3 linked regions of the Homo sapiens genome follow. The protein of the gene in region 1 purifies or fractionates together with the protein of each later gene. This does not show direct contact. Each region holds a gene or a part of one and is shown in the gene's direction. Other genes may lie near its edges. The genes, in order: ESPN, PRMT2 and CTSC.

Region 1 (3,653 bases):
GCTTAAGCTTCCAGGCTGGGGAGTGAGGAGGCTCCAGGCTCTTCCCCTGGGCTCGTGGGTGCTGCCAGTCACAGCAAGCTGGAAAACCAGTTAGCCCAGAGATTTTATCAACTTCAGCAGGTGCCTCCTTCCCCGAAAGCCTCCCCTACCCCCGACCAGACTAGACTGGAATGGGATTGGAAAGTACCTGGGGCTGGGTACGGTGGCTCATGCCTGTAATCCCAGCACTTTGGGAGGCCGAGGCAGGTGGATCACCTGAGGTCAAGAGTTCAAAACCAGCCTGACCAACATGGTGAAACCCCGTCTCTACCAAAAATACAAAAATTAGCTGGGCATGTGGCCGGGCTATGCCTGTACAGGTGGCCCATGCCTGTAATCCCAGCTACTTGGGAGGCTGAGGCAGGAGAATCACTTGAACCAGGGAGGCGGAGGTTGCAGTGAGCCCAGATCATGCTATTGCATTCCAGCCTGAGCAACAGAGCAAGATTCTGTCAAAAAAAAAAAAAAAAAAAAAAAAAGGAACGAACGAAAGAAAGGAAGAAAGGAAGGAAAGAAAAGAAAGAAAAGAAAAAGAACCTGGTGCTGAGTATCTTCTAGGGGTCTGGCACCACCCAGTGTCATCTGAGCCACACAACCACCCCGAGCAGTAGCTATGTAATCAGCCCATTTTACAGATGGACTCATTCAACTAATGTTTATTGAGCATCTTCTATGTGCCAGGCAATATTCTAAATGCCAGTGATATGCTGGTGAACCAGACAAGCTTCCCTGCCTCGTGGAGCTGACAGGTACAGAAATGGTGTTTTAGAGAGGCTGATTCACCAGCTGTGGTCACCACTGGCTTGCTGTGTGGCCTTGAGCAGGCTGTACCTCCTCTCTGGGTCTCTCTCCCACTCCTGGTCCAGGTCCTAATCACTCAGGGCCTTTCAAGTCCACCGGAGACTTCCCCTTTTCCCTTCCTTTGTGCAAGGCTTCATGGAGCCTGGCTGCTCCCACGGCCCAGGGGTTCAGGCAGCCCCCACCTGGGACAGAAAGGGAGTTTCTTGGGAAGCACCAGCAGCTCTCAGCTTAGAGAGCCCCAGGGCCCAGGGCTCAACTCTCCCCCTTAGAAGGCTGGAGGCTGTGCCTGGGGTGGTCCCTTTCCCCACTAAGCCCCTGATTCTGCCACAGGCCGTGGGGGCTCATTCCTTTTTGATCACCAGCTCCAGGTCTACCCTTGGTGTCTGTCAGTTCACCTGGCAGCAGGGCGTGGGGGCAGGGCCTGTGTCCGCACTGAGGAGGTGGCTGCTGTCCTTGACCCCCTGACCTACGTGGAGGCTCTGGGAAAGGAAGGGCCTGGTGGAGTCCGGAGCAGCCCCTCACAGCAGGAGACCATCTCATGTCTCCACCAGCAGCTCCTGGTCCCAGCTGTCGTCTAACCGGGGCTAGTGCCCCTGCCCTACCCTTCTAAGGGGGAGAGCTGAGCCTTGGACCCTGGGGCTCTGTAAGCAGCACACTGCTGGGGCATCCTAGGGCTTCTGAGAAACCCCCTTTCTGCCTCACGTGGGGGCTACCTGAACCCCTTGGGCTCAGCTGGGCCATGGGAGCAGCCAGGCTCTGTGAGGCTGTGCACTACAGAACGGAAAAGGGGAAGTCCCCAGTAAGCCTGAAAGGCCCTGGCCTTCACCCGTCCATGTCCACCCGCAGCCTTTGAAAACACAAGTCCTGCTGGGTGCGGTGGCTCACACCTGTAATCCCAGCACTTTGGGAGGCTGAGGCGGGTGGAACACGAGGTCAGGAGTTCAAGACCAGCCTGGCCAACATGAAGAAACCCCGTCTCTACTAAAAAATACAGAAATTAGCTGGGTGTGGTGGCACGTGCCTGTAGTCCCAGCTACTCGGGAGGCTGAGGCAGGAGAATTGCTGGAACCAGGGAAGCGGAGGTTGCAGTGAGCCAAGATCGCACCACTGCACTCCAGCCTGGGCAACAGAGTGAGACTCCATCTCAAAAAAAAAGAAAAAAGAAAAGAAAAGACAGTGCAAGTCCTGGTCTGGTGCAGTGGCTCATGCCTGTAATCCCAGCACTTTGGGAAGCTGAGGCGGGCGGATCACGAGGTCAGGAATTTGAGGCCAGCCCGGCCGATACGGTGAAACCCCATCTCTACTAAAAAATACAAAAATTAGCCGGGCATGGTGGTGGGTGTCTGTAATCCCAGCTACTTAGGAGGCTGAGGCAGGAGAATTGCTTGAACCTGGAAGGCGGAGGTTGCAGTGAACTAAGATCGTGCTGCTGCACTCCAGCCTGGGCGACAGAGCAAGACTCCATCTCAGGAGGAAAAAAAGTTAGCCGGGTGTGGTGGTTCCTGCCTGTAGTCCCAGCTACTTGGGAGGCTGAGGCATGAGAATCACTTGAACGCAGGAGGCAGCGGTTGCAGTGAGCTAAGATTGTGCCACTGCATTCCAGCCTGGGCAACAGAGCAAGAATCCATTTCAAAAAAAAAAAAAAGAACAAGTCCCATCACAGGCTTCTGACCACTGACAGGGAAGGCTGCTCACTTCCTTACAATGGCCCAGAGGCCATCCCTCCTCCGGGCTGTGGTCCCATCCAACAGGCCAGCGCCCCTGCCTTCACAGAGGCTGATCCCTCTGCAGGGATCAGAGATACCCGCCTGCACCCTGCCTTCCTCCAAGTCTTTGCCCAGACCTCACCTCAGCAAGGCCAACCCTGAGCCTTGCTGAAATTGTCAACCGCACCCATGATGCCCACTCACTCTCCCACTGGCCTTGTTCCCTGCTGCCCTTTTTCTTTGAGACTTGAGTCTCGCTCTATCGCCCAGGCTGGAGTGCAGTGGCACGGCTCACTGCAACCTCCACCTCCCAGGTTCAGGTGATTCTCCTGCCTTAGCCTACCGAGTAGCTGGGATTATAGGTGCATATGGCACCACACCCGGCTAATTTTTGTATTATTAGTAGAAATGGGGTTTCACCATGTTGGCCAGGCTGGTCTCCAACTCCTGAACTCAGGTGATCCGCCCGCCTCGGCCTCCCAAAGTGCTGGGATTACAGGCATGAGCCACTGCACCTGGCCTCCCAGCTGCCCTATGGTTGCCTGGCTTTGCGTTCTGTGTGCATCCTGCGTGACAACCAAAAGCTAACCCCTAGGAGAAACCCCTGAGACACATTCCATCTCTTCACTCCCTGCATGCCCGAATTTCCAGCCAGGCCCTTCATCACACAGACAGATGTGTGTTTTCATCCCATCTGTCCCTGACTAATGAGGCCAGGGGCTTTGTCTTCCCGGCTCTGTATGCCCAGAGCCTGACTCCAGTAAACGTCTGCTGAATGAGTGGGGTATGGAATCCCAGGGACTTGTCCACTCTGCCTATAGCTCATTGCATGTGACCCTAGACAAAACTCCCCTCTGAGCATTCCCAAGCCTGTCTGGCAAGTGGACCTAACCTGCCCTACCAGCCTGAGGCCATGAGTGAAGAGAGATCCCCTACTCCTGGCCTGGATGTCCCTTCTCATATTTATTCATTCAACAAAAAGCAACTGGGTGCACCCAACTGCCCGGCCCGTCATCACGTCAGCCATACATTCTTCTATCCATGTGTGTATGGGTCTGAGGAATAGGAGAACAAGATAATTCAGGAGTGACAAGTGCTGTGTAGTGA
Region 2 (3,129 bases), on another chromosome or scaffold:
CCCATCCCCGAGTCTGGGGGCGTGGAGGGGGCAGTGACCTGGGGCACAGGCTGGGGTGAGGGGTGTGACCAGAGTCAGGGAAAAACTGGAGACCTGAGGAGCCCCCCACTTCACTGCTGGCCCCACCGTGGACAGTGGGAGTTTGAGGGAAGACAGAGCCTGAGGAACTTAGAGATGTTTCCAACGCAACCCAGTGCAGAATCATAGCGTTTTACTATTTCCCCCCAAATGTGACAGTTGTCCTCACCTTGTAACCTTCACAGAAGCGACTCCTTGGACCTGATTCTGTCTGTGTACACCACAGTTTAACAGCAGGAGCTAGATCACCAGCCTCTGCAGCTTAGGCAAGGGTGCAGGAAGGGGTTGCACAGCCGTCCTCCTGGCGGGCCGGGGAGTCGACACCACACGGGACCTTTAGTGCAGCTGTGTGTCCCCTGAGCTCCCGCATCCTCTGGGCCACCCAGGGTGAGCCGTCCACACCTCCTGGAATCTGAGTGGTCTCAGGAGCAAGCTTGTGTTTGGCATTGGCAGGATCTGTCTCACTAGCGTAACTTTGATCCCAGTGTATCCCATAGAGTCCCTTTAGATCACAGGGCTGGGGGTGTATATGTTCCCTGAGTTAGCCTGAAAAGCCAAGCTTTGTGTCCCCAGGCCCTCAGGGTGGACTGCCGGCTGTGTGGGTGCTGTTGGGGGCGAGAGCCAGTGCGAGCCTGAGTCAGCGCCCCGAGGGCCATGTGGAGACTGCCCTAGCTCAGCCTCCAGGTCACACGCACCCCTGTCTTGCAGCACCACACACTGGAAGCAGACGCTGTTCATGATGGACGACCCAGTCCCTGTCCATACAGGAGACGTGGTCACGGGTTCAGTTGTGTTGCAGAGAAACCCAGTGTGGAGAAGGCACATGTCTGTGGCTCTGAGCTGGGCTGTCACTTCCAGACAAGACCCCACATCTCAAAAAGTAAGATACGTAGTTGTAAGATTCTGTCCTGTGGGTGCCGGTCCTCAGGGAGACAGGCCTGGGTGGTGGTAGTGATGGCAGATGCTGGCCCACACTGGGGTCCACGCCTTTTGTGCAGGAGTGATTTAATCCTTACACAGAAAGCGCCTGTTGTCATTGGCTTCATTTCCCATCTGACAGCACGGGAAGTGGAGGGCTCTGGAAGGGAAGTCAGGGAAGTCATTCCCTCAGGTGACACGGTAAGTGAGGGAGAGCAGAGACCCACATCAGCCTGAGGCCCCTTGTGCCATGTCCAGAGGGTCCCCCAGATGGACAGAAGCCTGAGCTGTGCCTTGGCGCTCCCTTTACACAGGCCTCTGTGGCTTCCCAGGCAGCAGTTAGTCTAGGCGTGTCGTCTGTGATGCGTGTTCTGACTGGCAGCCTTCGGATCCGTGTGTGAATTCATGTGTAGCTCGCCCAGCTCACTTGGGCTTCCTGTCTCAGAGGCTGCTGAAAATGGAATGTTCTTCTTTGGGCTCAGGATTAATGTGGCAAAGAAAATAAAAATAAATGGTTTTCCTTCATTTTTTATATTTGTTTTGTGCTTTGCTTTGTGATAAGTTTTTGTTAAAAGTTTGTCATTTAAAAAAATTCTGCACCTGAATACTGTTCTCTTGTCCAATATTAAACCATTAGGAAATGTAGTATGTTAATCAAATGATTTATCATCTGATTGACCTGTTGTCATTTATCTTTTTCAGGTTGGAGAAAAAGTCTTCCCCATCTGGAGATGACAGTTGATGCTTTATTTGGAAAGCAGTGTGCATATCTTGAGGGGTGATGAACACAAGCAAACCAAGTTGCACCTGGCTTCTGCACACTCCTGCGAAAGTCGGTGAACATTCACTCCACATTGACCCCTCCCTAGCCTGGCAGGTGACGTCAGGGTCCTTCACAGACAAACACGCTTGGGCTCGGCAGGAGCTGCCGTGGCCACCCCCGCTGCCCAGTGTCTGCCCTCTAGAAGTAGGCTGTGTTTCCAGGTGTTCACCCGTGGTGCCCACAGTGCCGACCCGTGGCTGGGTCGGAGCTCCATGTTCCTAAGCTAGGTCTAGGTCTACACTCCTAGGACGCACGCATATCAGCCCGTGTACCCTGTGACAGTGACTGTCCCCACCTCCTATGTTAGTGGTGCCCTTACTGCCGTCGCTCATCCACTCGTGTGGGACGTAGGATTGCACAGGGCTGTGCCAGTGGCGTGTAGGGAACACTGCCCTGGCTCAGCGTGCGAGCTAAGGTGGTGATGTATGCGATGGGACTCTGCATGGGATAGTACAGTTGTGTAGACGTCTTCCAAATAAATTATGTGTTGGTCCATCGCACATGCTCAATAAATATTTTTAAATGAGTGAATGTCATTGTGTATCCTGTTTTATGCATATATGTTATTTTTTGTAATTACAGGATCATACTATATGCATTGCTTTATAAGTTTTTCTCAATATTGTGAAAAAACTTCCACATCAGTAGATACATGTCCATAATTTTTTTTTGTATTGTTTTGATTTTTATTAAATTTTATTGAAATATAGGCTGGGTGCAGTGGCTTACCTCTGTAATCCCAACACTTTGAGAGGCTGAGGTGGGATGATTCCTTGAGCTCAGGAGTTCAAGACCACCCTGGGCAACACAGCGAGATACTATCTCTACAAAAAAAATAGAAAAATTAGCTGGGCATGGTGGCGTGTGCCTGTAGTCCCAGCTACTCGGGAGGCTGAGGCGGGGGGATCACTTGAGCCCAGGAGGTTGAGGCTGCAGTGATCTAGGATTGCACTGCTGCACTCCAGCGTGGGTGACAGAGCAAGACCCTGTCTCAAAAACCCCAAAAAACAAAACTGAAATATCAAATATATATTGAAAACAGTGCTAGTCATGGGTACATAGATGATGGCATTTTATAAAGTGGACGCACATGTAACCAGCATCCAGGCCAGGACACACTACAGATTCCCCGATTCCCCTTCCACTCAGTGCCCACCCTCTCAAGGGTGATGTCCTGACTTGTAACTGTCGATTACTCTTGCCTGAATGGAGTTGTACACGTGTTCTTTTGTGTCTGCCTTCTTTAATTAAACATTGTTTGTGAGACTCATCTATGAATTTTAGACAGTGTGGTTGTGGTTGACTTTTTC
Region 3 (3,653 bases), on another chromosome or scaffold:
TAAGAAGATGACCGGAATTGACACCACTCTTCCCAAGAGTAGTAGTAGTTGGTATAATTTTGCCACTTTATTTAAAATTATGATTTTAGTAGGTTTACAAAATACCAGTGCTACATTTGAATATGTATAAATTATGTTTAAAATTTACATTTTGGTAAGTATGACTAAATTCTTAATTTATTTTCCTTATTACTACCACTTTATTTCTAAATGTTGCCATAGTCATTTGGCTTTGTTCTAAATCTGTAGGAAAGATAGAGAGATTACACATTTTGTTTTCTTGCAGTTACTATGCTGTCCTTCCTATCACTACCTGTTGGCTGAGGTAGTGATAGGCCTAAATGATTCATTATCTTAAATGTACTAAATATGTTGAGTAATTTTTTCTTCTAAACTAACAGAAAGAGAGAACCTAGGAGTTACTCCCTTAGGCTGGTTAAAGTGAAAGGTAGCCAAGTCAACCCAGCTTGTTTCCTTCTCTCATTAGGAAAGAACTATTGTTCATTCTCATAACACACTTTTTCCAATTGCAAACATACTCAGGGTTAAAATAGTTTAGCACAAATTGCAGCCCATTTCATTTGTTCTTCACAAGCTGGAACTTTTCTTGTAAGCTAAATATTAAATGGTTCAAGTAAATTGGATACATAAGCCTGAAACTAGGCGTTTCTCATTATACATAGAGTATAAATTAAGACAGACTTTTTCATGGTGAAAGGTTTACAGCCTTTAAAACATCTGGGAAGAAGTGGGAAAGTAGGGAATAACTCTGTTAAATATGATAAAAGACAAAGCACCAACAAAGGCCTAGTTCTAAACTTGTTATAATTTCTCATGGGAGTTGTGGTTTGTCACAAGGTTATGGCGGTCCAAGCAAGTTTACAATATTTTTTAGAATAATAACTCCCAGAAATATTTTTAAAATAAGGACCTTTCTTTAATATGGAAAAAAAAAAGATGAAATAGAGAGGAAGAGGTTGCCTTTCCTCAACTGGATTTGCTGGTGTGATATGCAGCTGGTGGAAACCAGTTTGTCCATGCTAGCTGTTGATGGCCACCAGTCCACTGAATTAGTGGAAACCCATGCTTAACCAGTTGTTAACTATTTTTAGTATCATTTCCAGATGCTACGCATTTTTTTTGTAAAAAACATACTTACAATAGTATCTATATAAATTTTTAAAATTGTAATGTATATGTGGTATATTTAACCTGAAAATAATCTTTGGTGTATACGTTGATGAGCCTAGGCCTTTGCAGACCTCTTACAGTTACTCTGTCACAGCCCTTCAAAGGTTCTTTGACTTCAGATTAAGAATCAATTGCATGTGGAATGCATGTGCAAAGGAAGAGATATTCAAGGCAATTGTTACCATGTACCATAAACCTTGTACATAATTTTTTGTCATTTTCTTTTCCTCTGTCTCTATCCCTTCTTCTTTGACACACAATAGACACCTAGTCAATTTATTACAAAAAAAATGAATGAATGAAGTGGAATTCAGTTGGGAAATAGGTTAAATAAATTATTTAGGAGATGAGGAATAGGTAAAAAGAGACAAGTACATAGTTTATTCTTTTGACTTAGAAAACTTTTGATTCTTAAATTCTGCAGAATTGGAGAAACTGGTGGGGAAACTTCTAAAATCATTATTTAATTACCAGAGATGTAATAGATATAGACAAAAGCAGTTTTCTTCTTTTATTATTTTTTCATCAGTTAGTTCTTAGCTTAAATAGTAGTCCAAAGCTGGTAGGGACAGAGGGAATTAGCTGGTGGCTGAATGAGGAATTGTATCACTTTTTGTGAATCACGGTGTAAGCACATTTGGTGTTTTGCCATTGCCTAAGAACATTAGTCACATTAGGTCAATAGAAAATCACTTTTTAAAGCCAAATAAAGTTATATGTGTTCCCAACCATGAGTTGGAAAGAATTAATATATATGCTGTTGGAGGGTAGAACCCTGCCTAATCATATGGTTCTGGATGGCATTGATCGAATCCTTATTCTTTCATTAGGAATAACAATAGAAAAAATACTCCTGCCCTACTGATTTCAGGATATGTCTATTTTAAAGTGCCCATTTGACAAAACCATTATCAGGGCCATGTTTTCTTTTTCTGCAGAAAAATCAACCACTCTGGTCAGTAGTTAGGTCTTATGACAAGCACCATAATTTCCTTAGGCAGAGTAGAATATAATAGGATACTTCTTTTTGAAACTTAATATAATCAGGTAGTTCCAGATAAACATAGCTTGCAAAGTGATAAAATACCATGTTATTTTAGTAAATCCAATTGCAAGAGTGATGGGAAACAGAGTTTAAAAACTTAAGAAAGATATTAAGATGGAGTTGACTTTGAATAATAAAGTCATCCACTGTTGATGGGTGACATTTATTAATACAGAAAGTTTACAGATTTTACCATAAGCATCAGGGTATTTCCTGCAGCTGGGGAAACCGTGCTTGAAAGGATGCGTAACTCAAGGAAAACACAAGCCCATGTAATAAGTATTGCATGTGAGAATTGTTCCTATAGAATTAGAAAGCATCTTTTACATTAAAATTTATTTTTGTAAAAAGAGAAAACATCAAAACTTGAGTAGTATTTGCTATTCAAAGAGTCTTACATAAACGAAAACATACTCAACCTACTGCCATTACAGAAATATTTGACAAATTCTTGCCATGCTTACCTGCCATCGTTGTTGTTATCCTACAAATCAATTGGATTTTCACGCCTCTCCACTGACTGGAACCCTACAACTTGCTTCCTTTTATCCTCTTTATATATGCTTCAGATATGCTTGAAGTAGATTGTTTCTTATTGTTCTTGCTGCTCGAGTTTGTTGAGTAGTTGGTACATGCAGAGTATTTGTATGTTATGACATATATAGGTTTTGTCCATGGTTCCTGGCTCATAACTCACTCCCAAGACCCTTGTTACAGAAACCAGAATCTCTCTCTCTGATCTTCTCCTACCCTCCTTTCATCTGCCCACTGCAGAACTCTAATCTGATTATGGTTTCTAAGACCCTCATACCAGAGAGTATTCTGCCCCATACCATAGCAGAAGGAACACTGCACAGAGACACCAAGAAGAATCTGAACAGACAGGCCTTGTTAGGTTTAGATCATGTCCTTATAACCTAATTATATTTTAACATGGTTATCCATGCTTTAATCATGTGTATTCAATGAACGCTCCATAAAAGCCCAAGAAGAACAGATTTGAGGGAATTCTGAAGCGCTAAACATGTAGGGTCTGACAGGAAGGTGAAGAAGAACTCATCATGCTGGAAGGGTGGTCCACCCTAACTCCGCAGGGACAGAAGCTCCTGTGTCTGGGACCCTTCCAGAACTTGCTCTATGTATCTCTTCAAGTGCCTGTGTATTTATATCCTTTCAAATATCCTTTGTAATAAATCATAAACATGTTTCCCTGAGTTTTTATGCCACTCTGTCAAATTAATTGAACCCAAAGAGGGGGTTATGGGAACCCCAATTTGAAGCCAGTCCATCAGAAGTTCTGGAGGCCTGGACTTGAGACTGGTGTCTAAAGTGGGCAGGCAGTCTTGGGGACTAAGCCCTCAACCTACGGGATCTGAAACTGTCTCCTGGTAGGTAGCATTGGAGTTGTACTGGAGGG

The links.
Region 2: the proteins of ESPN (region 1) and PRMT2 purify together in Homo sapiens (affinity purification with mass spectrometry; one large-scale study listed by BioGRID and IntAct). This does not show direct contact.
Region 3: the proteins of ESPN (region 1) and CTSC purify together in Homo sapiens (affinity purification with mass spectrometry; one large-scale study listed by BioGRID and IntAct). This does not show direct contact.

The regions. Positions count from the first base shown.
Region 1 is NC_000001.11:6,431,136-6,434,788, forward strand, and holds part of ESPN (espin), read left to right. Parts: intron 1-3,653. UniProt on the Homo sapiens protein: Multifunctional actin-bundling protein. Plays a major role in regulating the organization, dimension, dynamics and signaling capacities of the actin filament-rich microvilli in the mechanosensory and chemosensory cells.
Region 2 is NC_000021.9:46,662,597-46,665,725, forward strand, and holds the end of PRMT2 (protein arginine N-methyltransferase 2), read left to right. Parts: intron 1-786; coding exon 787-958; intron 959-1,698; coding exon 1,699-1,731; coding exon of another isoform or gene 1,732-1,778; 3' UTR 1,779-2,528; downstream 2,529-3,129. UniProt on the Homo sapiens protein: Arginine methyltransferase that methylates the guanidino nitrogens of arginyl residues in proteins such as STAT3, FBL, histone H4. Acts as a coactivator (with NCOA2) of the androgen receptor (AR)-mediated transactivation.
Region 3 is NC_000011.10:88,331,191-88,334,843, reverse strand, and holds part of CTSC (dipeptidyl peptidase 1 isoform a preproprotein), read left to right. Parts: intron 1-3,653. UniProt on the Homo sapiens protein: Thiol protease. Has dipeptidylpeptidase activity. Active against a broad range of dipeptide substrates composed of both polar and hydrophobic amino acids. Proline cannot occupy the P1 position and arginine cannot occupy the P2 position of the substrate.